Homo sapiens: one gene and its partners. The protein of the gene in region 2 interacts with the protein of the main gene of each other region in a pairwise test. Each region holds a gene or a part of one and is shown on either strand. Other genes may lie near its edges. The genes, in order: CDH1, PRAM1, DLST, alpha-crystallin A2 chain, SH3RF1, FXR2 and NEDD9.

Region 1 (4,238 bases), on a different chromosome or scaffold from region 2:
ACTGAATCCCAAGTGCTTCCTTTATATCAAACCACTTTCTCCTCTCTCATGATTTTACTTGATTGGGTATCACAATAAGAGGCATTTTTTTTTTAAGAGAAATCACCCACAATTCCCCTGAGGGAACACCTCCACTGTGTCATTCTTCCAGTCTTTGACCACATGAATCTTTAGCAATCACGCTGTTGTCTTTACATTTTTTTTTTGAACTTTGGAAGTCATTCGAAGTTTTTTACAGAGAAACTACAGCTCGACTGATGAAGTATATTTGCTCTGTGTGCTCTAGAGCTTTCTATTGGATCAGAAGTTATCTCTAACTCCTGGGCTCAAGTGATTCACCCGCCTTGGCCTCCCAGAGTGCTGGGGATTGGATATTTTGATGTCAGTGGGCATTGAGGAGTGGCTTCTCGGGGAAGGCAAACTTGATCCAGTCTTGGAGAGCAAGGCAGGGGCTAGAAACAAGCTTGTATCTGAGCATGCGTCTGGGGTGTCCCAGTGCTAAGGCTGGTGACTTTGTTTTCCTGCACCAAGATATTTGGTAGCACCAAGGGTGGGTTGGTCTGGTTTTTATTTCTCCCTTCTAAGCTCCTGTGTTTGACCAATAATATTATTACATATTAACACTAATATGTTAATAATTAATAGTGACACGTATTCACTTTTGCCTCAGACTCTGGGGCAAGTGCTTCACATATTTTACCTCATTTAGTCTTCACTAGAACGTTAGGAGGGTGGGCACTGTTATTCTTCCTACTTTGCAAGTGAGGAAACTGAGGCATAAAGCAATTCTGTAATCTGAAGCATCCGCAGTTGGTCTTTTCTCTTCCTTTTTCTCCTTGTTTTTCACCTCAATAACCTGAAAAAACAAAAACAAAGAAAAAAGGTGTTTGGGGAATTAGTGTCCAATGTGAAGTAAGCTGAGAATGGAGGTGTTGACAGGGTGGGACCTCCGAGAGGGGGTGGTGATGATGGAGATGGGTCAGACCCGGGGGAGGTGGCGGGGGACCCTGGGACTGGTGATTTAGTGGGAAGAGGCAGCCTTCACACAGAATCCGCAGGCCTCTGGTGTGGTTGGTTTCAGTTCCCTTTATGTTCACAGACCCCCACCCCCACACAACAGATTTCCTGACATTTAATATTTGTTTTGGCTTTTTTGGACTGTGGGGTCTCCTTGTATCAGTCCAATGTGGAGTCGCCCCAGGATGGAAGTGCCCTTCTGGTAAAATCACACGTTCAATCTGAGGAACTGGCTTGTGATTTTAAAAGGCCGCTAGGACTTGGGATGTGGCCTGACTCTCTTTGGACAGTGCACGGAAGTGAAGGGATGGATGTAACATTGGCACCAGGTTTAGACATTGGCTTCATGGAGAATTTACTCCATGGGAATTTTGAAACTTGAAACCTGTCACTTTTTGTGCACAGGCAGCTGTAGGGTCTTAACTCAGGGGACTTTGGAGTGTTTGCTAGGGTCATTCCTCTGCCCCATGCTGTGGCTGACCCCATGATCTCAACCTTGTATTTATTCCATTGGTTTATCTCCAGCTTCTAGAATGAAGACCTTTACAAAAAAAAAAAAAACCAAACTCAACTGTAATAAACCAGTTTTTGTTTTGAGACGGAGTTTTGCTCTTGCCGCCCAGCCTGGAGTGCAGAGGTGCGATCTCGGCTCACTGCAACCTCTGCTTCCTCAGTTCAAGCAATTCTCCTGTCTCAGCCTCCTGAGCAGCTGGGATTGCAGGCACATGCCACCATGCCTTTGTATTTTTAGTAGAGACAGGATTTCATCATATTGGTCAGGCTGGTCTCAAACTCCTGACCTCAGGTGATCCGCCTGCCTTGGCCTCCCAAAGTGTTGGGATTACATGTGTGAGTCACCATGCCTGGCTAATAACCCAGTCCTTTAGAGTTGCTGCTTATTTTCCTTCTTCATAGCACACACCGGTCTGAGAAACCCAGGCTATTAGACAGTTTGGGATCTCTGAAGTATTAGCCTAGTAACCACAGCTGTAAGTTGACTCAGGCGCGGAAAAAAGAAAAGCTGGCAGGCTTTCCCAGTGATTGTTTTCTTCCTTTGCTTGCTCTGCAATCTGGCCTTGGAAACACAGGGCCTATATTTCAGTGTTGAGGTTTGGCTGCTTGAGGGGTTGACCTAGTTCACAGGCACCCAAACTTTGTGGATTAAATACACCCATTTCCCCTCCTTTTTTTTTTTTGAGACGGAGTCTCGCTCTGTTGCCCAGACTGGAGTGCAGTGACGTGATCTCGGCTCACTGCAACCTCTGCCTCCCAGGTTCCAGTGATTCTCCTGCCTCAGCCTCCCTAGTAGCTGGGACTACAGGTGTGTGCCTCCATGCCTGGCTAATTTTTGTATTTTTAGTAGAGACAGGGTTTCGACTACGGCCATACCACCCTGAACGCGCCCGATCTCGTCTGATCTCGGAAGCTAAGCAGGGTCGGGCCTGGTTAGTACTAGTACTTGGATGGGAGACAGGGTTTCACCATGTTGGTTAGGCTGGTCTACAATCTGGAGTTTTGCTCTTGTTGCCCAGGCTGGGCAAACTCCTGGCCTCAGGTGATCCGCCCACCTTGGCCTCCCAAAGTGCTGGGATTACAGGCGTGAGCCACTGTGCCCGGCCATTTCCCCTCCTTTCTGAAGGATGTGCTGAACGTTTCAGAAAACAGTATGCAGCCTCCCTAATACAATTAGACTTTTAAAAAGCAAACCCAGAAACCAGCTTTGGGATCACCTTACATCATCAGATCCCCACCCCCTACCCCTCAAACTCATAAAAGTCACTTCCCCAATTACTCATGTCTGTGACAAAGGTTGATCTGAGCTTACTGGGAAAGAAGACCAGTGGGCCGCCCTCCTGGCCTTGCCTTTGTGTCTCTGGAGGTGCGGAGGTGGAAAGTCTTGGGCCCGGCAAGGCCATGTAAAGAAGGCAGGCTGCTGCTTCCTCCCAGTGGGGCCCTGCCTGCCCCTCTCTGCCAGGTGGTTATGGAAATCCCTGTTTGCTCTCCAGGGCTTTTTATTGGGTGAGGCTTTTCTTCCAAAATGCTCACCTTGTGTCTGTTACACATTCCCTTCCAAGGTAGCCCCAGATACGCCAGAGGCTGAAGCTCTCGTATCTCCCAGAAGCTGCCCAAACCCTAAAATCCCCGAGAGGCACCTGTCCCAATCCAATCCTTGCTGGGTCTCTTTCTTTCTTTCTTTCTTTCTTTCTTTCTTTCTTTCTTTCTTTCTTTCTTTCTTTCTTTCTTTCTTTCTTTCTTTCTTTCTTTTCTTTTCTTTCTTTTGAGACGGAGTGTCACTCTGTCGCTCAGGCTGGAGTGTAGAGAGGTAGGATCTCAGCTCACTGCAACCCCCGCCTGCCATGTTCAAGTGATTCTCCAGCCTCAGCCTCCTGAGTAGCTGGGATTATAGGCACGCAGAAGCATGCCCAGCTAATTTTTGTATTTTTAGTAGATTCGGGGTTTCACCATGATGTCAGGCTGGTCTTGAACTCCTGAGCTCAAAGTGGTCTACCTGCCTCAGCCTCCCTAAGTGCTGGGATTACAGGCGTGAGCCACCGAGCCGGGCCCCTTCCTGGGTTTCTATCCTGCCTCAGCTCTATCTCCTTTGAGGGCACAAGGCTTTCAAAAAGGAGAATGAAATCATTCAGCAGTGGCTGTTTAGGATCCTTCAGCGAGGAAGTACAGGAAACTAGGTTTGAATTTTAGCCACTAGCTATTTGACTTTGAATAAGTCACTTTACTTCTATGAGTCTCAGTTTCCCCACCTGTAAAATGGGGCGGTAATACTTATTGATCTATTATGAGAATTAAGTATGTACATTCATTTAGTTCACAAAAGTGAGTGCCTGTTGTGTGTTAGCACCAGGCTAGACCCTGAGGTTACGGCAGATTGGACGGAACATACATGCCAATGGGCAGGAATGTAAAGAGAGAAAGTAGAGAGAATATTTTCAACAGTAGTTGATATTTCTTAGGGACACAGTAAACTCTCAATGTTATTTTGAGCAAATGAATGAACACATGAATAAATCGCTATCTTGGCCAATATTTTTCCCTCTCAAACTCTATGGACTTGGTCCAGCCCTTAAGGTTGATTGTAAATGGGCGGGGAAGAATTTGGTGGGTTAGAACCTTCCATTATGCTCTGTGTGTGCTGGGGATACTGTGTTCATAGCTTCCCTCTGAACAGCTGTGCAGGGCAGGCAGGGAGATCTCAAACCTGA
Region 2 (3,823 bases):
GGCGGGCACGATTCAGGTGCTGCTCCTTGGGCTGCTTGGAGGGACTACAGGCCTGAAATGTCCGGCGGGATACTTTGAGCCATTCGGAAAGGACATGCTGGGGCTCTGGGTTCTGGATCTTTCACTCACCAGGGTTCCTGGGGCTCCCACCTGAAGCCAATTCCTTGGCCAGCAGGGCTCTGACTTGGGAGCCTGGTCATTTGCCAGGAAGTGGCACAGGGAGACTGGCACCATGGGAGACCCCTCAGTCCAGAGTCTCATCATCAGTCACCAGTCCAGGACGCTTACCCTAGCAGCATCTTTTAAAAATTATTTTTATTTACTATTTTGAGACAGGGTCCTGGTCTGTCGCCCAGGCTGGAGTGCAGCGGCGCCATCTTGACTCACTGCAACCTCCAGCTCCCAGGTTCCGGCGATTCTCCTGCCTCAGCCTCCTGAGTAGCTGGCATTATGGGCGCCCACCACCACACCCGTCTAATTTTTGTATTTTTAGTAGAGACAGGGTTTCACCATGTTGGCCAGGCTGCTGTCAAACTCCTGACCTCAAGTGATCTGCCCGACTTGGCCTCCCAAAGTGCTGGGATGACAGGCATGAGCCACCATGCCTGGCCATGATATTTTACTGTCAACTATCATTGCCCTCCTGTGCAATGGAACACCCAATTTCTTCTTCCTAACTGTAACTTTGTACCCATGGGCCAGCCTCTCCTCATCCTCCCTTCTGCCTTAGTTTTTCACCCAAATCTCATTACAGTAGAACCCCAGAACCTACCGGGTGCAGTGGCTCAGGCCTGTAATCCCAGCACTTTGGGAGGCTGAGGCAGGGGCATCACCTGAGGTCAGGAGTTAGAGACCAGCCTGGCCAACATGACGAAACCTCATCTGTACTAAAAATACAAAAATCAGCTGGGTGTGGCAGTGGGTGCTTATAATCCCAGCTACTCAGGATGCTGAGGCAGGAGAATCGCTTGAACCCAGGAGGCAGAGGTTGCAGTGAGCTGAGATCATGCCATTGCACTCCAGCCTGGGCAACAAGAATGAAACTCCGTCTCAAAAACAAAAACAAAAACAAAAGAAACAAAAAAAAAAACGGCTAGGCACGGTGGCTCACGCCTATAATCCCAGCACTTTGGGAGGCCGAGGCGGGTGGATCACCTGAGGTCAGGAGTTTGAGACCAGCCTGGCCAACATGGTGAAACCCGTCTCTACTAAAAATAAAAAAAAAAATTAGCCGGGTGTGGTGGCATGTGCCTGTAATCCCACCTACTTGGGAGGTTGAGGGAGGAGAATCGCTTGAACCCAGGAGGTGGAGGTTGCAGTGAGCTGAGATCGCGCCATTGCACACTCTAGCCTGGGCAACAAGAGCAAAACTCCGTCTCAAAAAATAAAAAAGAACCCTAGACCCAACTTGCTCTAGGAGGCAGAAGTGAAATGGCCTCGAAGCCTACAGATAAATCCTGCCTTTACCATTTACCAGCTGGGTGACCTTGGGCAGTTTGCTTGACCTCTCTGAGCCTTTATTTCCTTGTGGACAAGTTGGGCATGACAGTGGCGTCTACTGGCATGAACAAGGTTGCTGAGAGGGCTGCCATGAGGGGCGTGGCCCAGCAGTTCCCACCATGCTGAGCACGTGGCAGGAGTTAAGGGAATGGAAGGCAATCCAGAAGAACCCATGACCCCTGAGAAAGGCTTGCGGAAGAAGGTGGGCAGGGAGAGGTTTGGGAGGGGACCTGGTGGGATTTGGGGAGTCCTCAGAACTGACACAGGGAGGCCTTACTCAAGATCCAGCCACCTGCCAGGCGCAGTGGCTCACGCCTGTAATCCCAGCACTTTAGGAGGCCGAGGCGAGTGGATTGCCTGAGGTCAGGAGTTCAAGACCAGCCTGGCCCACATGGTGAAACCTGTCTGTGTTAAAAATACAAAAATCAGCCAGGTGTGGTGATGGACACCTGTAATCCCAGCTACTCGGGAGCCTGAGGTAGGAGAATCGCTTGAACCCAGGAGGCGAAGGTTGCAGTGAGCCGAGATTGTGCCATTGCACTCCAGCCTGGGTGACAGAGCAAGACTTCGTCTCAAAACAAAAACACAAAAACAAACAAAAAACAGCTACCAGGGTAAAGGCTGAGCCGGCGGGCCCTGCCTTGACTCGGAGTCCTGACTGTCCCCAGATGAAGCGCCCTCAGTTCAGCAAGCCGCCAGGAGGCCACCACAAGACCCAGCGCTCAGGTGCCATGGGCAGAGGGGGTGGGCAGACGGGGGGCGAGCTCCAGGAACCCCCAGAGGAGCACAACTTGCTCACGAGCACACAATTCCTTGGTGGGGGCTATCAGGAAGGAGAAGGATCCCCAGCCACAGCAGTTGCCACCCATGGACCCAAAGTTGCTGAAGCAGCTGAGGAAGGCAGAGAAGGCCGAGAGGGAGTTCCGGAAGAAGTTCAAGGTGAGGCCTCTGAGCTAAGCAGGAGTCCTGGCAGGGCGGAGACCAGGGTCCCACCGATCCCAGGCTCAGAAAGAAGACAGGGGCCCAAGGGCGGCAGCACAAGCAGAGGCCCTAACATCTCGCGCCCCAGTTTGAAGGGGAGATCGTGGTTCACACGAAGATGATGATCGACCCCAACGCTAAGACACGTCGCGGGGGTGGCAAGCACCTCGGGATCCGGCGCGGGGAGATCCTGGAGGTGATCGAGTTCACCAGCAATGAGGAGATGCTGTGCCGGGACCCCAAAGGCAAATGTGAGTGCGCCCGGCCCCGCAGCCCCGGGAGGTCCCCGCCGCCACCCTGGGCCTCAGAACCCACCATGCCCACTCTCTCCACAGATGGCTACGTGCCCAGAACAGCGCTCCTGCCCCTGTGAGTGCCAGCCCTGACCGTGGTGGGGGAGTGCGGGGTGTGTGGTGCAGGGTGGGGGGAATGGGCCACGGTGCCCCTTGCTGACCCAACTGTGCTCTGCCAGGGAGACGGAGGTGTACGATGATGTCGACTTCTGCGGTACGTGGACACTCTGGGAGGGCTGGAGGGACCCTGGCGATTCCCCGGGGGCGCTGCTCACTATTGGGCTTCTGGGGAGAGGGGTCCATGGAAGTCACGCTTCCTCGGCAGATCCCCTGGAAAACCAACCACTCCCCCTGGGACGGTAAGACCGGTAGGCGTGGGGCCAGGACAGCCAGCCAGCCCAGCGCCCGCTCACCCAGGAGCCCTGGATCCCGGCGCGGGAAAGTCACAGAGCTGCCTGGGCTTGTACCTGGCCACATAAAGCCCCAGTTTAAAGCAGTCCCTGCTTCTTGTCTTTTCTTTCCCTCCTGATTGGCACACAGTGGAGCAAAGGCACGGGAACCCCCTGACCAAACACAAAAGGGGGTGTGTCTGGGGTCACCCTGCCATGGTCTCACCCCTCAGGGATAAAAGCCAGTGGGGAGAAAAGGGTGGCAAGAAGCTGGTGAGCAAGGGGGGCTCCGGGTGATCAGAACAGCATGTGCTACCAGGCAGGCAGCCGGGCAGGACGCGCCCCTCCACAGCCAACAGAACAGCAGCAGCCAGGCCTCCTTGCCAGGTATGCACACCTGCTTGGCCTGAGTGGATCCTGAGAGCGCTTCACTGGGGGAAGGGGTGGGGCCTATACCCAATTCTGACAGAGCCCAGGTATCAATCAGATTTGGCCTGAGCCTCTGGCAGGACTGAACACGCATGGAAGGTGGCACACAGTTTGGTCTGTTTCAGCAGGAAAAAAAAAAAGCCAGAGAACAAGCCTGACTCAGGCAGGGCCTGTGCCCCAGGGCGTTAACTTCACAACAGGGAGACAGGATGGCTTTCGGGGGGCTTTTTT
Region 3 (4,238 bases), on a different chromosome or scaffold from region 2:
AACTTTTGAGAGCCGCCTACATGTGTGGGCAAGCAGAAGGGGGCCACTGAAAAAGATGAGAGCCAGTCAGGGAGGCATGAGAAGAATGGGAAAAAGAAGAGGTATACATTTGGGCAAAACAAAGATGGCCTTCTACCTCCCTAGAGCACCACTCAACAGGAGGGACTAGGGCTTCTACTTCTAGACCTTTAGGGCCCCTGACACTGCTGAGGATGGCAAAAGTAGCACTGACCCCTCTCCAATCTCCCAAGGAACAGAGAAGTGTGTCAACAGGAAAACAAAGTGCTTGTTAGGTCAACACTACAATGACGTAGGTAAGTAAAAAGGAAAGAAAATAAGCACCAGGTCCATGAGAGGCCAAGCCGAAGCTCCCAGTGAGGCCCATCGACCTAAGATCAAAGGTCAGCCAGGAGCCTACACCAACTGTGGAAGTCAGGCCCCAAGGTAACAGGGCCTGTGGAGCTGGGGGAGGGGAGGAAGCCAGAACACGTGCTTCCACCTTGACAGGAGACAGCCTGGAGAGCTGGGCTATCCCAGAACTGCCTGCTGCCTGAGCAGCTGCCGAGCTGTACACTGGGAAGAGAAACTGTTCTGCCCAGCTGGCGGGTAGAAAGTAATCATGATGCTGCTTCAGGAAGGTGAACCAAGAAATCCCTGGGGAAGATACTGATATTTCTATAGGTAGCAAATAAAAAGCCTTGGTCTGTTGATCCTCTGCATGTGGGAGCAGGTCTGTGCTCATACACCTACCTCCCAGGACCTCTCCAATTCCAGCCACAAGCAACTCACCTGCATTTACAACAGGCTGTTCCTGCAAGGCAAAGGCTGAGGCCTTCACAAATGCCGACATGAAGCCTAGTTTGAGGTTATGTTTCTTCAAAAAAGCCTCTTTGTGCCGAGCCCTCATCTCCTGGATGTTACTGTGAAAATATTACAAAACAAACTGACCACAAAGCCTGCATTTTGACTTTCACACAGGTTTCTCAATCCATATACACAATTAGGTGAGAGCTTTTCCCTCACTCTGGACCATTACCTTAGTTCAAGTTTTGAAATAGTCTACCTGAGGTTAACACAGTAACTCTGTTCTTTTACAAAGAAATCTACAGGAATCAGGCCCAATCTGTCTTTAAGGTGGGTTGATCTCTTTACAGGGCTCCTTCATGGTCTAGAAGTCACAGATTTCAGTGACACATCATATGAACAAGAGATCACACAGCACACCAACATCCTTGCCCTGAATAACTGAGCTATCCATCCTGAAAAAAAATTTTTTAAAGTATAAACAAAATCTACAAAATAAGCAATATTCTTTTTATTTCTTGTTAGAATACAAAAAAAAAAAAAAAACCCCACCAAATCTGAGTATAACTCCCGTGTGATATTCCTCCTATCTCTTGATTAGTGGAGACTAAAATAAACAGCTCATGGGTACATGAGGCTCCATGCGGGAAAAAGCAGTCATGACTCTGCAGGGAAGGGTATAACCCAGTGTTCTTTCAGGCCCACGGAAAGTCATATCCGTTCTTCATCTTTCCAGGGTTGGCAGTTCCATCCACTTATTCTTCCAAACAGGTACTAACACCTTACTACATGTGAGGGTCAGGGCCAGGTACCAAGATACAAAGCTAATTAAGACATAGTTCTTGCCCTAAGATTAGTTTAATGGCTGTGATTTCCTTGGTATTTAGAAAAGTGGCCACTTGTGGTTTAGGCTGGTTCCCTTCAGATTAAGCAGCAAGCCTTCTGAAAAGCCTTTACAACATGAGCAGCCTTTATTCTTTTGGGACTGGTTTTTTTTCAATGACACATTGCAGAGTTAGTGAGAAATGGCTTTCCCATCACTTTGCTGCATAAACCTCAGTATTTATCGGAATGCAGTAATGCAGTTCTACGATGAAAATTGAATTTAACTTTATCTCAGGGCCAAATGCTCAGTTCTCCCTTTCTCCCTCTAATGGCCTAATTCGACATTAGCATGAAAGGTAAGATGTGGTACAATTTTAACAGCCCCCTTCAGATCTTTTGTTTTTGAAAAAGGAAGTTTTTCCAAGGGGGACTGATTGGGTTTAAAATGCTTGTTTTCCTGATTCTAACCTTATTTAGTGCTAGGATTACCACCCTAAAGACATTACTGGTTCCCAAGACACAAGAGCTGCAGAAGAGGGAAAGAGATGTGATAAACATCTCTGCTCTCAAACCTGCCCAAATGTTATTGTCTGGTCATTAAGTAGCTTCTATTTCAGAGCTCTGCCCTTGGAGGCAAAGGCTGGGACAATAGAGGAAGGGAGAAGGTCTCAGAAAGGTCCCTTATGGGTTAGCTGATCAGCACAAGACCCAAAGGGCACTCGATCTAAACCAAATTAGGCTGCAGCAAGACCGCAGGCCATTGTTAAGTGACACCTTGATTAGCTGCTGAAAGGAGATCCAGCTATTACGCTTCCTTTCCAATCAAAGCTGTTGGGCCAACTGCATCTTTCAGGGCCACAAATATTTACATGTTTTGTCTTAAGAAACTGGGTAGAATTTCAAAGTCCAATTCAATTTGTGTACAATTTGGCCCTAATGCACTGAAACATAAGCTGCAGCCTTTGTGATTCATTAGTCAAGGTCCTTCCCCTACATCCTATGAACAAGAGAGAAATCTTTGGCTTGAATGTCATCCAGTCTCTTCGGAAAGTTTCCCAACAGAATGGATGACATCTAGTAAAACAGGTCACAGAGCCCTACTCTGAACAATGCCACAGCGCACTATCAAGAAAACACTCCCTTCTCCCTATTTTTCAAACCCTTTCCAAAGAAAAGCAAATTTCTCTAATGAAAAGTAGATTCGCAGACTAAACCCTCAGGACAAAAAGAAAGAAAGAGATGACCTGAGACTTGACTTGCTTCCTGAATTAAATATAAACTCCTACCCTGGCATTCAAAACATTCTGAAATAAGGATCCAACCTTCTTTACCATTCTTTGCTATACAAAATCCTCACAACAGAAATGATTTTTGACAATTTCTCAAATGTGTCTTCTACTTTCCCATCTCATGGTCTACACTGTTAACATCATCTGGAATGACCTTTCTCCACAAGGCTGACAAAATGCTAGTCACTCTTGAAGACCTGTTTAAAAATTCTTTTTTGGCCAGGAATGGTGGCTCATGCCTGTAATCCCAGTGGGAGACCAAAGCAGGAGGATGGCTTGACCCTAGACGTTCAGGAGACCAGCCTAGGCAACACAGCGAGACCTTGTCTCTACAAAAACTAAAAAAATTGGCCAAGCCTGGTGGCACATGCCTGTAGTGGTCCCAGCCATTTGGGAGGCTGAGGCAGGAAGATCACTTGAGCCTCCCAAGTAGCTGAGACTATAGGTCCATGCCACCATACATAATTTTTTTTTTGAGACACAATCTCGCTCTGTTGCCCAGGCTGGAGTGCAGTGGCGCGATATCAGCCACTGCAACCTCCTCCTGGGTTCAAGCAATTCTTGTGCCTCAGCCTTCCGAGTAGCTGGGATTACAGGCATACGCCACCATGCCTGGGTAATTTTTGTATTTTTAGTAGAGGCAGAGTTTCACCACGTTGGCCAGGCTGGTCTCGAACTCCTGGCCTCATGTGATCCACCCACCTCAGCCTCCCAAAGTGTTGCGATTACAAGCGCAAGCCACCGCACCCAGCCCTCACTTGGCTAATTTTTAAATTTTATGTAGAGACAGTCTTGCTATGTTGCCCAGGCTGGTTTCCAACTCCTAAGCTCAAGCGATCCTCCTTCCTCACCCTCCCAAAGCTCTGGGATTATAGGCACGAGCCATGGTGCCCAGCGTCTATCCCCACTGAATTCCACAGTACAGTACTCTGTATACAGTACGCACTCAAAACACGTTTGTCAAATTTCTCTTCCTGACAGTGCTGATACTTGAACACATTGAAATCTTGAAGAAAACAGGTAAGTCAACAATTAGCTCACTACAGAAATGGGCATACCTAGTGAATTAGTACCTTTGGTTAACATTCTAAGGTTATTTAAAAACACAACTTGTTTTCCATTTCACTGTCAGAGCTGGGTAAAATGAAAGACAAGCCCAGCCTATCTTTGCCTTTTCATCCACTCGATTCTGAATCACTTAGGAAAATATGTAAGTGACGGGGTCAAACAATCCTCCCATCTCAGCCCCCCAAGTAGCTGGGGCTACAGATGTGCACCACCACACCTGGCTAATTTTTGTATTTTTTGTAGAGGTGGGGT
Region 4 (4,131 bases), on a different chromosome or scaffold from region 2:
GTGTGGTGAGGGGCGCAAGAGGTGTGAGTGCCTGGACCTTGCTCTGCCCCATGTCTGAGGACCTTGCCCTGCCCCGTGTCTGAGGACCTTGCCCCATCCTCGGCACCCAGAGCTGTGCAGTCCATAGGACCAGGCTGGTGCCCAGCCCCAGGTTGGTGCCTCAGCTGCCTCCTCAGCCTGCAGTCTCCACTGTTTGACTGACCATGTGCAGGGCCAGCTGTGAAGGACAGCACAGCTCCTCCCTCCCTGCCAAGTGTCAGGGGCACTAAAAACACTGCCATCAATGTTCTGATGTTTAAATCATGTTTTGATGCAATGTTTAAACAAATCAAAATGGGTCGGGCGCAGTGGCTCACGCCTGTAATCCCATCACTCTGGGAGGCCGAAGCGAGTGGATCACCAGAGATCAGGAGTTCGAGACCAGCCTGGCCAACACGGCGAAACCTCATCTCTACTAAAAATATAAAAATTAGCTGGGTGTAGTGGTGTGTGCCTGTAATCTCAGCTACTTGGGAGGCTGAGGCAGGAGAATCGTTTGAACCCGGGAGGCAGAAGTTGCAGTGAGCTGAGATTGTGCCACTGCACTCCAGCCTGGGCGACAGAGCGAGACTCCATCTCAAAAATAAATAAATAAAATAAATAAGTAAATCAAAATGAATGCAAAAAATTTGTGGTGGACAAACTGTCAACATTTTACATAAAGCCAGGATGAGGACGACGGCCTTCTCCTTTTGCTTCAAGCTCCAGCATGGCTCTGCCCAGCACTGACCGTGCTCCTGGCCTGGCTCGACCCTCCCCAGGGCCAAGCTCCATGCTGGTTTCCATCCCAAAGGACTCTTCTTCCCCCTCCCTGTGCCCCGGGAATAGGCAGCCAGCACAGTGGGGCCGCCCGCTGCCTCACCCAGACCCTGCCACTGCTTGGATGTTGACCCCCAGACTGGAAAGGTGGCTTTAAACCCCCTTCCCTTCTTCCAAGCCAAGTGACCTGGGTGTGCGGCTTAACCTTCTAAGCTCCCATTTCCTGGTCTATGAAGCGGGAATGATGCTGGGACCTGCTTCACAGGGTGGCTCTGAGGACCCACAGGCAGAGAGGTCTGGTGTAGGCTTTCGGGGGAAGCACCCATCACTCTCCCAGCGTTTCCTATCTGCACCTTAATTTGGCACCCCAGGGAATCGCTCCTCTGGAATTGTAACCTTGCAGGGCAAAAGCTATCATTTCAAGATTTTTTGGGATCCTGTGTCCCCGGACAGTGCTGTAAATGTAGGAGGAAGGGTGCTGCTCATGGGTGCTGCTCATGATGGAGGTGCCCCGTGGAGCACGCCTCGGAGCCCCCCCTTTCATCCCTGATCCCATCTGGGATGTGTCAGGTCTGATCCGCATACACTGGGGCATCTGACATTTCATGGCCTTCTGAGCCCATGGGCTGGAGATGAATTTGCAAAGCCCGGGAGTGTCCTGGGTGTGTGTTCACTCCACACGCACGAATCTGTTAGAGGCTGAGTAGGAACTAGGAGGCCAAAGAGAACCAGGCAACTTCCCACAGCCTGGACCGTACACTAGAAAAGCTAGCCTGGGAGAGGGGGCATGGCCTCTTCCCAGGCTGGCAGGGGGGATGTGGGGGAGGACCATGCTCCCCAGGGCCAGTTTACCAAAATATCAAAATACCAAAATATCAAAAGACTTAAAACTAGGAGTGAGCCAGGTGCAGTGGCTCACGCCTGTAATCCTACACTTTGAGAGGCCAAGGCAGGTGGGTCACCTGAGGTCAAGAGTTTGAGACCAGCCTGGCCAACACGGTGAAACCCTGTCTCTACTAAAAATACAAAAATAATAATAATAATAATAATAATAATAATTAGCCAGGTGTGGTGGCAGGCACCTGCAGTCTCAGCTACTCAGGAGGCTGAGGTGGGAGAATTGTTTGAACCTGGGAGGCAGAGGTTGCAGTGAGCTGAGATCGCGCCACTATATGATCTGGGCGCCACTCTGGGTGACACAGCAAGACTCCATCTCAAAAACAAACAAACAAAACCGGGAGTGCCTGGACACTTAGTGAGAACTGGACAGGGGCCATGGGTCGAGGAGCAAAATAATCACCAGGACTTGTGGATAACAGGATCATGTGGGTGGTGGGTCCGCATGGGTGACAGGGACGTGGGGACATGTCGCCACCCTGACAGGAGCAGCCCAACTCAACAGCCACGGCAGGTCATGCCACGGAGGCTCGAGGCGTTACGTGGGGATGTTACATCAAGGCATTACATCATTACGAGATGTAACGCTCGAGGCGTTACATCGAGGGGATGATGGCCATGGGGCTGGGCGTCCAGGGTGGGCCGCAGAGGGAAGCTCACCACGTGGTGCTCTCATCTGCCCACAGCCCAGCCCGTCTTCCTGTTGGAGGCATGTGACCCCTGGAGGACAAGCATGAAACGCCATAGGGCTCCCCCAGGTGCTGGAATTATGGCACCTTGCAGCTTCTTCTCCACGAGTTTTAACAAGCATGCGTACTTTTGTAAGTGGTGAGTGTAACGGAGGTTCACAGATGCACTCCGCTTTGGAAACCAGTGCACTCTTGCCCAGGCCCGGTGAGACTCTGACGACGATGTGTCTAACCTCTGTGTCTAACGGGGGTGTGGGCTCTCCCTCCTCTGGCGACCATGAGGACCACCCCGGCAGGACAAGGTGTGCAGAGAACTAGCATGGTCCCTGGCACGTAGCCCCTGCCCAGTGACTGGCAGATGAGAAGCTCCATTGTCGCCCCAGGCGAGTATGGGGCACAGGCGCCTCCTTGGGTTGTCTGCCCTCCCGGGAGCCCCAGGGTGCCCAGGCGGGCCTCAGCTGAGTCCAGGCCTCGGGGACAGTCCGTGCAGCCCCTCCTGGGGCTGGGGGCGGGCACTTGTCCCAGCCACGTTTCTGCTGACTGAGCAGCCTTCTTCATGAGCTCACGCCTTTCCAGAGAAATCCCTTAATGCCTCCATTCTGCTGGTGGCATATATAGGGAGGGCTCGGCCTTGGCTCCACACTGCGCTGCCCAGAGGCCCCGCTGACTCCTGCCAGCCTCCAGGTCCCCGTGGTACCAAAGCTGAACATGGATGTGACCATCCAGCACCCCTGGTTCAAGCGCACCCTGGGGCCCTTCTACCCCAGCCGGCTGTTCGACCAGTTTTTCGGCGAGGGCCTTTTTGAGTATGACCTGCTGCCCTTCCTGTCGTCCACCATCAGCCCCTACTACCGCCAGTCCCTCTTCCGCACCGTGCTGGACTCCGGCATCTCTGAGGTAAGACGTGGCCCGTGGTGCTGGCCTCTCCTCGCTGCTCAGAGGGTGGTGGCCTCGGTGGGTGGAGAGCGATGGACTCTGGTCTTGCTCCGTCAGGCAGGTGGCCTCGTCCCACTTCATCCCCTTGCAGAGGCTGGGCGAGAGCCTGTGTCCCCACTGCAGCCACGTGGTAGAGCTTCCCCTGGCACTGGGGAGAGGGTGGACAAGGGAGCAGCCTGAATCCACCTTTGCTTTCCTCCATCAGCTCATGACCCATGTGTGCTTTGTAAGGCACCAGCCACATACTGGAAACCCCAAGAGCAGCCCATCCAGGCATGCGTGGTGGCGAATGCCAGCTCCCGGGTTCCTCTGGTCTCCTGAGTCCCGGAGACCTGGGAGCAGGTGGGGGTCATAGTCCTGAAAGCCAGAGAGCAGGGCGTTCCTAGCACCTCCTCCAATGAGCTCGGCCTGCCCACGGCTAGCAAAGCTCTTGGCAAGTTTACTTAGGTGCCCTGCCAAGGCTAAAAGGACAGGCAATGGACGCCCCCCCCCCCCACCCAACCACAGGCCTCCTCTCTGAGCCACGGGTGAGCGGTGCAGGTTCTGCTGTTCTGGAGGGCCTGAGTCCCACCCAGCACCTCATAAACAGGGTCCTCCCCAGGGCTGCTGCAGTAGGCATCAATGCCAGGGTGCAAAATGCCTCAGGGAGCCAAGGCTGAGCCAGGGGAGTGAGAAGGAGCATGTGGAAGTGCGTTTTGGAGAGGCAGCTGCGCAGGCTGTCAGCAGGCTCCGGCCGCTTCTATAGACAGCATGACACCAAGGGCAGTGACCTCATTCCACAGGCTGAGTCCAGCCAGCCAGCCAAGCATCA
Region 5 (3,837 bases), on a different chromosome or scaffold from region 2:
GCGAAACTCAGTCTTAAAAAAAAAAGATATTTGACGAGGTGGAAGGTAATGAAGTCATCAACCAGGATAGTGACAGTGACAATGAAGAGGAGTGGATGGGATGCAGATTTTGAAGGTAGATCAGCAGGTCCCATGTAGGTCATGGGAGAGTATTCATTGACCCCTGAGGTTCAGAACTTCCCCAAACCCCTGTTCATATAAAGAAAAGCATAATCCGAGTGAGGCAGAGGGTGGAGCAGCAGATGTAAAGGGCCTCTGCAGCTGTGCCTTACATCTGTTTGTTGGTCTGTAAATGTTCTACTTGGCAAAGCCTTTCAATGCCTGAAATAGTTGGCCAGTTATGCCCAGTATTTGGCCTTACAAATCTGTATTAGAAAACTGCAAACCACCTCACAAGGCTCAAGATCAGGACCTGAGCTGGAAGATTTCTAAGTAGAGTCTATTACTCCTGCACCTGGTAGTCTTCATACGATCAAGACTGTGTCACAGTTTCCATTATGCACATAGTTTCTCATTCCACCCGCCCCCCCAGAGGTTTATAAAACTTAGCAATGAAAATTTGCTCCCACTGGGAACTTGGCAGGAAGAGTATGTTCTTAGCCCAGCAGCAGTTCTAGTTCAAAATTTTTTTTTGACAAAATTGGTTTAGTGCATTTTATAAAATGCATATATTAATCTAATTCACTTCAAGTTTTTCAATAACCATTTTTATTCCATTTCACCTTTAAGGCAGCTCACAGAGAACAAGTAGGGAATATATCTCATGAGAAGTCTACTCTGAATATGTTTTGAGTCACTTGTACATTTTTTCCCAGAATTATAAAGCTTTGCCTTAAATGTTTAACTTGCCCCACATGGCAACTACATCATTGCTTTTTCATGGATTTTTAGCATGTTGACATTAGACTTGAGAAATGTCATCTGGATCCTTCTTTCAGATAAATTCATGATGAAATTATTTGTCTTGCTTTTAAAGGTGTCAGAGAGCTGGGCATAGCGGCTTATGTCTATAATCCCAGCACTTTCTGGGGCTGAGGCTGGAAGATTGCTTGAGCCAAGGAGTTCAAGACCAGCCTGGGCAATATAGTGAGATGCCATCCCTACAAAAAGTAAAAAGATTAACCAGGTTTGGTGGCACACACCTGTAGTCCCAGCCGGAAGGCTGAGGTAGGAAGATCAGTTAAGCCTGGGAGGTCAAGGCTACAGTGAGCTGTGATTGCATCACTGCACACCAGCCTGGGCAACAAAGTAAGACCGTCTCAAAATAAAGATATCAAAGAAGGGATTCCAAAACCCTAACTGTGTTGATCTAAAGTTTGTCAAATCTCATTTTCAGGAAATGAGGCCTGAGTTGTGGCCTGAGTTCGTTTCCTAGTTAGAGATGTCCAGCCACTGACTGGCCCATTCTTCACCTCCTTGAAGTGCCAGGCCTCTGCCTACTCTTGTCTAAGCCATATGATCATAATGGGAGCTAATATTTTCAGGTTGAACTCTTTGTCAGACACCATACGAAGAGCATCATACTTGTTTAACTCATTACAGTCCTATTCTACAGATGAGGAAACAGACTGAGAGCTGAGATAACTGGCCCAAAGTTAAGCTGCTCTAACTGACCTTAAAGACTGTGTCAATCCTTAGGCCAGTGTTTCTCCCGCTGTGTCATGCTTCCTTCCTCATTCCATGCTTGATCAAACCCCAGCCTTGTGGTCTATGAATATTCATGTTTGAATTAGCTGAACCTTTCTCAGATATGATAAGCCAACTTCTGTGCTGTGCTTTTGCTTCAGATCTTGGGTAGTAATTTGGTCCCTGTGCCAAAGGAGCTCAGGTTGTTCAAGCAGCCACTTACCTTTTGCAGAGATGTGTTTTTTTAGTGTAATAGTCTGGGACTCTTGCTGTGGTCTTTCTTAAATGGATTTTGGTTTATATGGAATGGGAATTGGTGAAAGGGGCAGGCTGTAATAGGTTTCAGAAGTTTGGGGACAGTTGTATAGAATTTGTTCTGCCTATCATTTTGAAGCCATAATATTTTTCACTTTCAGTCAGGAGTGGGTCCCACGAGGCTATACACTCATTTTCTGACTTTGAGAACCAAATGAAAGTAGAAACCCAAAATCAACTTTATGACTGACTACTCATTACTTAGCATCAAACAGTGAAAGATGTATTTATTAGATATCTGTTGCCATGTAACCAGTTACGCCCAAAAGTCAGTGGCTTAAAACAATAATAAGCATGTATTATTTCACACTTTCTGTGGGTCACATAATTATGGAACAGCTCATCTGGTTGGTTCTGGCTTAGAGTATTTCTTGAGATTGTAGTCAAGACATCAGCCTGAGCTGATGCTCAACTGGGGCTGGAGGATCCCCTTCTAAGATGGCTTATTCACATCACTTTTTCTGGTTAGTTTAGGCTTTTGGAAAGAGGCCTCAGTGCCTTACCATGTGTTTCCTCTCCATAGAGATGTTGAGTGTCCTCACAACATGGCAGCCAGTTTTCCTGAGTGACCGATCCAAGAGAAAGTAAAGTGGAAGCCATAATGCCTTTTATGATCTAGCCTCAGAAATCACCCACTGTCATTTCTGCAACATTTTATTGGCCACACAGGTCATCCTGTGCATCATAGGAGGAGACTACACAAGAGTGTGAATACCAGGAAGCAAGGATCACTAGGGCCATCTTGGAGGTTGGCTACCATACACCACCATTCTTTTCCCCCCTTTTGTTGAGAAGAGGAGTAATGCAAATAATGCTGGAAAAATAGAGAAAGATAAAAGGATATAGAGTGTAAAACAAGTCACCTCCCTCTCGTTTCCTACAAGCTGTAATTCTGCACAGGAAGGCTAAGGAGCATGGAGGCAGGGGCACAGATAATATTAAACCAACTAAGCTTCTGCCATTTTTAAGCGATAATGACACCTTTCCCACTAACTCCAAATTCTGAGCCAAGGAGAAACAGACCCAAATGTCAGAATAATAGAGATGAGAATGTCAACCTCGTTACTGGTAATGTTGGATTGAACTTGTGGCCATAGCCCTCCCCTCCATGTCTGGACCTTGGGACTACCTTCCCAAGGGATAATCTGGGTATGTGGGGCAGATTACCTTCCTCAGAATTGCTGCCTCGCCCATGTCAAACACCAGTGTAAGGGACGTAGGGACACAGAGACAGACTTCCAGACTCACCTTCCTGACCTCTGTGTGCTTACAACATAGAGGTGGAGCAGAGCCTCCTTAGCCTGTGGGCAGGCGGTTCAGAGAGGACTGAACCCCCCCTGCTCAGCTACTTCTCCCAGTCTCACCAATCAAATAAATTCACTCCTGTTTCCTTGGAGAAGAGGGAGGGATAGAAATGATACCCCTCTCGGGAAATGAAATGAAACTCTCCTTTATGGCCAAGATACAAACACTGGTAGGGAACAAGGATGGCTGTCCTTGTTAAGGTCACTCAGATGAACCAGTCTGGGCCATCAGTAGTGGGTTGACACACATATCCAAATCCAGTCTTTGTTAGTACTAAGTCTCTACTAAACAGAAAATAGCAGTATTTTGAGTTGTTTTACAATCATAAATGAATTAATGTTATTTCCTATTTATGTTGAAGGTTCGTGCAGACTAACAGTACACCATTTTTTAAAATCACTGCTTTGAATCGCCTTAACCAAAATCTCTTTCTTTTCTAGGCACAGGGTGGTGGTTTCCTATCCTCCTCAGAGTGAGGCAGAACTTGAACTTAAAGAAGGAGATATTGTGTTTGTTCATAAAAAACGAGAGGATGGCTGGTTCAAAGGCACATTACAACGTAATGGGAAAACTGGCCTTTTCCCAGGAAGC
Region 6 (4,238 bases), on a different chromosome or scaffold from region 2:
AAAGGGGGGCAAGAATGGAAGCAGGAACAGAGCACAGTAGTCCAGGTGAGAAACTTGAACTGGAGTGCTAAAGGAAGAGAGAGAGAGTAGTTTTATGTAGGATAAATTTTACGAGTAAAACCAGTAGGACTGACAGGCTCTGTGATACTGAGAGATACATATTTGGTCTCCTGACCAGGCTCCTGGCATTCAACTTCTAAAATCCTTGGAATCTCCAGTGATGTGTGTTTTTGTGTGCTGATGAGTTGATTCATGGCTAGCCCCTCTAGGTGGCTTCATGATTAGAGGGTTGGAACTTTCAGCCTCACCCCCACCAACTTCCTGGGAGGGGAATGGGGCCAAAGGTTAAGGCAATCACTGAGGATCAGTGATTTAATCAGTCATGCCTAGTAGTGAAGCCTCTAAAAACCGGAAAGGGGCCGGGTGCAGCGGCTCACGCCTGCAATCCCAGCACTTTGGGAAGCCGAGGCAGGTGGATTGCCTGAGGTTAGGAGTTTGAGACCAGTCTGGCCAGCATGGTGAAACCCCTTCTCTACTAAAAATACAAAAAAAGGGAGGCAGAAGTTGCAGTGAGCAGAGATCATGCCACTGCACTCTAGCCTGGGTGACAGACCCCATCTCAAAAAAAAGAAAAAAAAAAAAGAAAACCCAGCTGTTCTGCAAGCTTATCTAGAAGACGCTTATAGGTCATTGTAGATCTCTTCCCCTCCCCTCCTAATGTAGTGATTTTGAACACTCAACTTAGTTTATTTTTCCAACTTTCTCTTCTTGCCTGGTATAAATCCTTGGTATAATTCAGTCCTATCCAACTTGGAAGTGGGAAGTAGTGTATTTCAATCTAGGAATGTCTCCTTTCAGGTATTGTTTCTATTTGGTGCTTACAACATGGGATTCACTCCTCTAAAACCTTTCCTGTCTTCCTGCCCCTGAACCCAGGGGTTCCTCTAAGGACTGATTGAGAAATGAAGTGAAAGCCTGGTGTTCTAGAGGCATGTTTTCTGTTTTTCTTAACCCCTCACTTTTTTTTGAGACAGAGTTTTGCTCTGTCACCAGGCTGGAGTGCAGTGGCATGACCTCGGCTCACTGTAACCTCCAACTCCCTGGTTCAAGCAATTCTCCTGCCTCAGCCTCCCAAGCAGCTGGGATTATAGGCACACCCCACCAAGGCCAGCTAATTTTTGTATTTTTAATAGAGATGGGGTTTCACTATGTTGGCAGGATGGTCTTGATCTCCTGACCTTGTGATCCACCTGCCTCAGCCTCCCACAGTGCTGGAATTACAGGCGTGAGCCACCGCGCACAGCCTACCCCTCACTTTTTACTTAAGTTGTTGAGTTTTATTTGGGGATGAGTTGATATTTGTTTGATTAAGGTAAGAGTTCCTTACACTTGCATGTACCTTGTGAGAAGTACTTTCACACCAGCCTTGTCTAATCCTCTTGCTAGTCTTGAGAATAAGATAAGTTGGATATAATCACTTAGCAGATGACACAAGAGGCAGAGTATGTTTTGTTTAAGATCACACAGATAGATACTCTTAGGGACAGATACTGTTAGGGCCAAATCCAGAACTTCGGTGTGTCCCAGTCCAAACTCTGCCCTCTTTACCTTTCCTCCCCCACAAACCACTGGTATTTGGAAGGAGTGGAATTAAAAGTTCCTGACCTTGGCCGGGCGTGGTGGCTTATGCCGGTAATCCCAGCACTTTGGGAGGCTGAGGCGGGCGGATCACCTGAGGTCAGGAGTTTGAGACCAGCCTGGCCAACATGGTGAAACCTTGTCTCTACTAAAAATACAGAAATTAGCCAGGCATGGTGGTGGACACCTGTAGTCGTAGCTACTCAGGAGGCCGAGGCATGAGAATCACTTGAAGTCGAGAGGCGGAGGTTGCAGTGAGCTGAGATCGCGCCACTGCACTCCAGCCTGGGCGACAGAGCGAGACGCCATCTCAAAGAAAAAACAAAAAGTTCCTGACCTTTCCACACAGGTCCTCGTGGTCCGCGGACTCCAGAGTGGTTCTAGCTTTCTATTAATATCACACAGTTTTCCTTATTTAAGTTATGCAAAGGGTCGTGTGCCTGGGACTGTGAGATTCTACCACCATGATTCCTACAGTGACTTTTCCTTTCAGACAAGCAAGCAGTTGGCAGCAGCCTTCCAAGAGGAGTTCACAGTGCGAGAGGACCTGATGGGACTGGCAATTGGGACTCACGGTGCCAACATCCAGCAGGCCCGAAAAGTACCTGGGGTGACCGCCATTGAGTTGGGTGAAGAGACCTGCACTTTCCGCATCTATGGGGAGGTCAGCAAAGGATGTCTTTCTTCTGGGTCTCTTAGGGGATAGAGGGAAGAGAGGCCGAAGTAGAAAATAAGCCTCAAACTGGGCACAGTGGCTCACACCTGTAATCCCAGCACCTTCGGAGGTCAAAGTGAGAGGATCACTTGAGCCTAGGAGTTTGAGACCAGCCTGTGCAACATAGTGAGACCCAATCTCTACAAAAATTTAAAAATTAGCTGGAAGTAGTGGTGCGTACCTGTAGTCGCAGGTACTTGGGAGGCTGAAATGGGAAGATAGAGGGGAGGATCACTTGAGCCTGGGAGTTGGAGAACAACCTGGACAACATAGAGAGACCCTGTCTTTACCCCCCAAAAAAACCAAAAACCAAAAAACGTTAACTGAGCGTGGTGGCATGCATCTGTGGCCCCAGCTACTTGGCTACTTGGGAGGCGGAGGCAGGAGGATCACTTGAGCCTGGAAAGTCAAGGCTGCAGTACACCATGATGGTGCCACTGAACCAACCTGGGCAACATAGTCAATAGAGTGAGACCAAAAAATCAAAAAAATAGACCAGATCTCTGTTGCCCAAGCTGGTTGTTAACTCCTAGCCTCAAGCAATCCTCCCTTCTTAGCCTCCGAAACTGTTGAGATTATGGGTGTGAGCCGCTGTGCCTGGCCAAGGTCCTCTGTTTTTTTTTTTAAGTTATTTATTTGTTTAATTTTTTTTTTTTATGAGATGGAGTCTAACTCACTCTGTTGCCCGGGCTAGAGTGCAGTGGCACAATCTCAGCTTATTGCAACCTCTGCCTCCTGGGTTCAAGAAATCTCCTGCCTCAGCCTCCGGAGTAGCTGGGATTAGAGACGTGAGCCACCAATTTTGTATTTTTAGTATTTTAGTATTTTTGTATTTTGATTTTTGTATTTTTAGTAGAGATGGCGTTTCACCATATTGCCCAGGCTAGTCTTGAACTCTTGAGCTCAATTTATCCACCTGCCTCCAGCCTCCCAAAGTGCTGGGATTACAGGCGTGAGCCACCACATCCAGCTGGTCTTCTGTTTTAGTAACAACTCCCTGCTGTTCTTCCTTTAGACTCCCGAGGCTTGCCGACAGGCCCGAAGCTACCTTGAGTTTTCTGAGGACTCAGTGCAAGTGCCCAGGAACCTGGTTGGTGAGTTGGTGGTGTGTATATACAGTTAGAGGTCAGAATCAAGATTCTCTACAGTGATTCTGAGCTTTTATCCAGGATTGGCACCTCCCTGTGGACTCCCAGTTTCACAAGGACAGAGAAACAGTCTGTAATGGGAGTGATAAAAATGAAAGAATAAATTTCTAGGGATTGTAACATTTTGTCCTGTAAAAACACATCAGAAACCTAGAAGCAGGAGAATGAAGTAAATGGAATCCATATAAAGAAAATGAGGCTGGAAGACGGTGTATCAGCTTTATTCTTATTTCCTTAAAAAAAATAAAAGGCTGAATTCCTCATTTACCTATTCCAGGCAAAGTGATTGGAAAGAACGGGAAAGTGATCCAGGAGATTGTGGATAAATCTGGTGTGGTGAGGGTTCGAGTGGAAGGTGATAATGACAAGAAGAACCCCAGGGAGGAGGTATGGGTACGGGGCAAGTGGGCATAGAGATTGGTTTCCAGAAGTAAATGGGATTGTCCTCTGAGGGCTGGGATTGTTCTTTGAGAGGGTGGAGTACGGAAAGTTGTTTAACACTAGTAGATTTAGAGCCCAGAATGATCCCACTGGGCAGGCTCCCCTAGGAGACTGGGCGGCGTTAATCCTTCCATTTCATTTTCCTTTCTGATCCATCGTTTCTGCTCTCTGTTCTCTAGGGAATGGTTCCCTTCATTTTTGTTGGCACCCGAGAGAACATCAGCAATGCCCAGGCTTTGCTGGAGTATCACCTCTCCTACCTGCAGGTACCCAGGCCGGGAGAGAAAAATGCTGGG
Region 7 (4,238 bases), on a different chromosome or scaffold from region 2:
TGAAAGAAGAAAAAGAGGTTCCTATTTTTCCATTCCTGTCTATCTTATCTTCCTTCACCAAGCTATGCAGCCCAAGGTTATATCTAAACCCACCAATACAAATGCATACACATCCTGGCAACTGTTGTCCATCTCCCAGCCAGAACCGAGTTGATGTAAATAGGATGCAACCCTCCCTGGAACTCTTTTAGATGTCACTTGACCTGGATTTGGTGCCTGATTGGTATTATCTACTTCACTTGTGAGGTCCTCAGAGAGTTTTAGAAAACAGATTCACACACTTGGCTGAGAGGTGTTTACAGTCATACACTGTCAGCAATGCAGCCACTAAGCTGTCTCAAGGAAGAGTTTTTGAAGCTGCAGCTTCTTAGTTAGAAGACAGGGAAAAGGTGGCAGGAGCAAAGGGAACAAAAAACCTTCATTGTGAAATTGTTCAGTGCCGAGGTGGAGAGACAAGCTCTTACACGCACATGTTATACACCAGTTTATGAGAATAAAATAGCTTTCTTAAAGACCCAGCTCTAAATGCATGTTCCATGATGAGGTACATATTGTAGAGAGAGAAGCCAGAGAAATACTTTAAAGTTGCCTTAGAGATGGTTTGATGGGTTTTACATTTGACTTGAATGAAACTCTGCGCTTCTTAGTATTTTGTGGTATTCACTGAAACAAACTGGGGCTAGGCCTGTAAGAGGAAGTTGCTTTTTGGTTAGGACCTGTTACATTAAGCTCAATATCAGTAATGATAAAATTATGGCAGTCAGTTCTATGGGGGTATTTTTGAGTAGGGCAGTTATTTTTAAGGAGAAGGAGTAGAAGAGATTAGACCACTGCTTCTCAACTAGGAGGATTTTTGTCCCCTCTGGGTACGGGCAATGTTTAGTGGCATTTTTTGGTTGTCACTGTGTGTGTGTGTGCATGTGCACATGCATGCACACGTGTGTTACTGGCATCTAGTGGGTAGAGTGGCCAGGGATGTTGCTAAACATCCTACAGTGTACAGGACAGCCCCCACCACAAAGAATGACCTGGCCCTAAGTGTCAATAGTGCCAAGGTTGAGAAACCCTGGATAGAGGAATGGACACCAGACTGAATTAGGAGGGTCTAGCTTCAGACTTCACATTTGAAGACTAATGACCATCAAATCTCTGCCTTTTGTGCCTCTGTTTCCCTGTCTGCAAAATAAATATTAATAGACATGTTCTTCTTTATAAAAATATGAGGAATCATGAGATTATTTACTCCAAATGCTCTGATTTCTTCAGGAAAAAGAGTCTCTATAAAATCAAAGCACAGTTATTATTACTGCGCCAAGATGAGCTCATGAAATTGTGTCTTAAGAACTGTACTCCTCCCCTTGGAAAAAAAAACTTCCTCTAGGAAAAAAAAACCAACAAAACAAAAAACCCAGAAATGATCTTATCATGATTACACCTGCCACACCAAAAAACAGACACACTTCAGAGAAATGAAATTCTTTCCCTTCAGCAATGAACTAAGCTGAGTCTGTAATTAAGATCTTAATAAGGGAGGCAGGAGGCTTGATTCAGGTGCTGCGGGCTATGAGGCGAGAGCGCCCATGCCAGGTTTAAAGCAAGAACAATTGGATGCAAATCCCCCGCACTGCTTAACACTCTCAGGTGTTCCAAACAAGTTCTTATTTCAAAATGGGCATGGCTTTATTTCTAAAGATGCCTATTTCTGCAAAGAAAAGGAAAGAGAGCACCTTGTTATTTACAAGTCAATGAAAAAAAAAGCACAACATCTTAGACAGTTTCCTGCAAAAGGCTGCTGTAAGGGAGATGGGATAATGCCTTCGACAGTGGATTAATCTCAGGAGCAGCCCTTGATGACAGTCTCTAGAGTGACCATGTGCTTCCGGACTCTCCCAGGCAGTCCCCAGGTTCAAATATCCTTCCCTTTGTCAGACCATATGTCCCATTTTTTTGGTTTGTAAAACATGGATACATACTCACAAAAAAGAAATATTTTTGAAACCAACAACAAAGGATGGGAATGTAAGTATATTTCTTGATTATGGATCTGCCATGGCTGAATTTCGGATTTGGGAGAAAAAGAGCTAGGCACTGATAAGAATCTTAAATTCAATCAACGTTATGTGTTCTCTAATTGACAAGGTGATGTCTGTAAGGAAATGAGATCGATTCCAGTGCCTCTGGGCCTCTGTGAGATAGCCTAGAAGTCCAGCTCCACAGTGACAGGGGTTATCAAGAGAAAGGAGGCTGTCGGGCTGCGTTCATTTCTGCTATTCCCTTCCTTGAACCCATTTAAAGGTGTGCTTGTCATGCTGGGCTCTGAGTGGAGAGGGTCAGGGAAGCGGAGATAGCACTGGACTTCTGCCCCAGGGGAGCATGCAAGGGAAAGAGGGCTCAACATTTTGCTAGGCCAATGCTGCTGTGGTAGTGCGACTGTACCACAGGTCCACGAACCCATTTCCTGCCAAACTCTCAGTCATGCCACAGTGACTAGTAACAAGAACGAAAGAACAAAAGGAAAAGAAAAAAAAAATCTCATCGACAGATGACTGATGTGTCCTGACACTGAAGACTCAGAAGTAGCTGGAGTGTCTAGAAGTCCACTTACTGCCATTTTCTGTGTGCTGGCTTTGCCTGTTATGGTTATTTTGGGAGGCGGAGGGTGTTGGGGGGCAGAAAAGCCCAGCTCATTCTTAAAGAGTCCTCTAGATGAGTCCTCAGTTAGCCTCATCTCCTGTGGGAGTGAGGCATTAAATTAAGGAAAACAAGTGGACTGTCATGAATCACTGAGATTAAGGCTAACTCATAGTTACCAAGAGATAGCACAGTGTTTCTGCCTGACCAATAAAACCTAGGAAAAACATGAATGACATATACTATCTAAATGCACAATGCCTTAAGAAGTAGACAGGAGATCTGGTTCAAATCTGAACTTTACACGTGTTTTGGTTACTGCAACTTTCTACTGGGTTTCACAGATAATTAATCCATCCACCGCCCCCCTGCCCCCCAACCACACATACACACAGTAAAAAAAGGAATTCAAATTAATTTCAAAAGGGCTATCAAATATTTTTGTTGCTTGAAATGGTTTCACTTTTACATATTTGTTGCTAAATCTTTGTTTCCTGTGGGCATAAACATAACATTTCATGTGAGGGACATTTTTAGTAACATCATATAACTATTACCTTGATATGTTAGACATATCAGGGGGAATTCTAATTCGCAAGACTGAGATTTGCAAAGAAACATGACACTTACAAATCACTGGATCCAGCCTTTGAATAAGGATCATGAACTACCTACTTAGACACCGTGTAAGCACCAGAAGCACTAGTAGTGGTTAGTGAGGGGATTAGGGAGAAAGAGACTAGCTGTTTTGTTTGTTTGTTTATTTGTTTGTTTGTTTTGTTTTTGAGACAGTCTCACTCTGTCGCCCAGGCTGGAGTGCAGTGGTGCAATCTCGGCTCACTGCAAGCTCCGCCTCCCGGGTTCAAGCCATTCTCCTGCCTTAGCCTCCCAAGTAGCTGGGATTACAGGTGACCACCACCATGCCCAGCTAATTTTTTGTATTTTTAGTAGAGACGGGGTTTCACCGTGTTAGCCATGATGGTCTGGATCTCCTGACCTCGTGATCCGCCTGCCTCGGCCTCCCAAAGTGCTGGGATTACAGGTGTGAGCCACCGCGCCCGGCCTTTTTTTTTTTTTTTTTTTAAAGAATAACTGGGATTTAATAGTCCATTGTGGGGCCCAGGAATATGTATTGGAAAACATTCCACTGGCAACTTTAATATCTCCATGACAGCTGCCTCCACTCCCTACGTCAACCATGAAAAACTGCTGTCAGCTCCACCACTATCCATATTTCTGGAGTGCCCGTTCTATCTTCCTCAAATTCACCTAGATCTCATTGTTTGGTCAAACTGTCTTCAAAGAGAGTCACCCTTTCCAATGAAGGGTACAAAAGGTTACCAACAAGGTGACTTATCTTAAAATGCAGATTGTTCAGGAAAATAATCCTTTGCAGGCTGTCATGTTCCCTAGCTGTGTGGAATCCTCATTAGCCAGCAGGAATTACTGCAGAGAGATGGCTGGAATGTTCAAAGTAAATAAGATGGAGGGGGGTGTTGTTGGCAAAGTATAAACAGGGTTTTTTTTTGTGTGTGTGTGTCCCCTTTTCATGCCCGTACTCTTTGCAACCATCTATCACCTAGGAAACCGTCAGTTACTCTCTGGCA

What was found.
Region 1: the proteins of PRAM1 (region 2) and CDH1 interact in binary tests that used the Homo sapiens proteins (3 or more experiments, as listed by UniProt).
Region 3: the proteins of PRAM1 (region 2) and DLST interact in binary tests that used the Homo sapiens proteins (3 or more experiments, as listed by UniProt).
Region 4: the proteins of PRAM1 (region 2) and alpha-crystallin A2 chain interact in binary tests that used the Homo sapiens proteins (3 or more experiments, as listed by UniProt).
Region 5: the proteins of PRAM1 (region 2) and SH3RF1 interact in a two-hybrid assay, tested with the Homo sapiens proteins (one large-scale study listed by BioGRID).
Region 6: the proteins of PRAM1 (region 2) and FXR2 interact in binary tests that used the Homo sapiens proteins (3 or more experiments, as listed by UniProt).
Region 7: the proteins of PRAM1 (region 2) and NEDD9 interact in binary tests that used the Homo sapiens proteins (3 or more experiments, as listed by UniProt).

The regions. Positions count from the first base shown.
Region 1 is NC_000016.10:68,740,085-68,744,322, forward strand, and holds part of CDH1 (cadherin-1 isoform 1 preproprotein), read left to right. Parts: intron 1-2,394; exon of another isoform or gene 2,395-2,489; intron 2,490-4,238.
Region 2 is NC_000019.10:8,489,503-8,493,325, reverse strand, and holds the end of PRAM1 (PML-RARA-regulated adapter molecule 1), read left to right. Parts: intron 1-2,168; coding exon 2,169-2,226; intron 2,227-2,330; coding exon 2,331-2,439; intron 2,440-2,569; coding exon 2,570-2,732; intron 2,733-2,816; coding exon 2,817-2,850; intron 2,851-2,953; coding exon 2,954-2,988; coding exon of another isoform or gene 2,989-3,099; coding exon 3,100-3,137; 3' UTR 3,138-3,270; downstream 3,271-3,823. UniProt on the Homo sapiens protein: May be involved in myeloid differentiation. May be involved in integrin signaling in neutrophils. Binds to PtdIns(4)P.
Region 3 is NC_000014.9:74,895,051-74,899,288, reverse strand, and holds part of DLST (dihydrolipoyllysine-residue succinyltransferase component of 2-oxoglutarate dehydrogenase complex, mitochondrial isoform 1 precursor), read right to left. Parts: intron 921-4,238; coding exon 790-920; intron 1-789. UniProt on the Homo sapiens protein: Dihydrolipoamide succinyltransferase (E2) component of the 2-oxoglutarate dehydrogenase complex. The 2-oxoglutarate dehydrogenase complex catalyzes the overall conversion of 2-oxoglutarate to succinyl-CoA and CO(2).
Region 4 is NC_000021.9:6,557,691-6,561,821, forward strand, and holds part of alpha-crystallin A2 chain, read left to right. Parts: intron 1-2,381; 5' UTR 2,382-3,092; coding exon 3,093-3,281; intron 3,282-4,131. UniProt on the Homo sapiens protein: Contributes to the transparency and refractive index of the lens. In its oxidized form (absence of intramolecular disulfide bond), acts as a chaperone, preventing aggregation of various proteins under a wide range of stress conditions.
Region 5 is NC_000004.12:169,096,537-169,100,373, reverse strand, and holds part of SH3RF1 (E3 ubiquitin-protein ligase SH3RF1), read left to right. Parts: intron 1-3,686; coding exon 3,687-3,837. UniProt on the Homo sapiens protein: Has E3 ubiquitin-protein ligase activity. In the absence of an external substrate, it can catalyze self-ubiquitination. Stimulates ubiquitination of potassium channel KCNJ1, enhancing it's dynamin-dependent and clathrin-independent endocytosis.
Region 6 is NC_000017.11:7,593,888-7,598,125, reverse strand, and holds part of FXR2 (RNA-binding protein FXR2), read left to right. Parts: intron 1-2,131; coding exon 2,132-2,302; intron 2,303-3,368; coding exon 3,369-3,447; intron 3,448-3,778; coding exon 3,779-3,888; intron 3,889-4,121; coding exon 4,122-4,208; intron 4,209-4,238. UniProt on the Homo sapiens protein: mRNA-binding protein that acts as a regulator of mRNAs translation and/or stability, and which is required for adult hippocampal neurogenesis. Specifically binds to AU-rich elements (AREs) in the 3'-UTR of target mRNAs.
Region 7 is NC_000006.12:11,222,106-11,226,343, forward strand, and holds part of NEDD9 (enhancer of filamentation 1), read right to left. Parts: intron 1-4,238. UniProt on the Homo sapiens protein: Scaffolding protein which plays a central coordinating role for tyrosine-kinase-based signaling related to cell adhesion. As a focal adhesion protein, plays a role in embryonic fibroblast migration.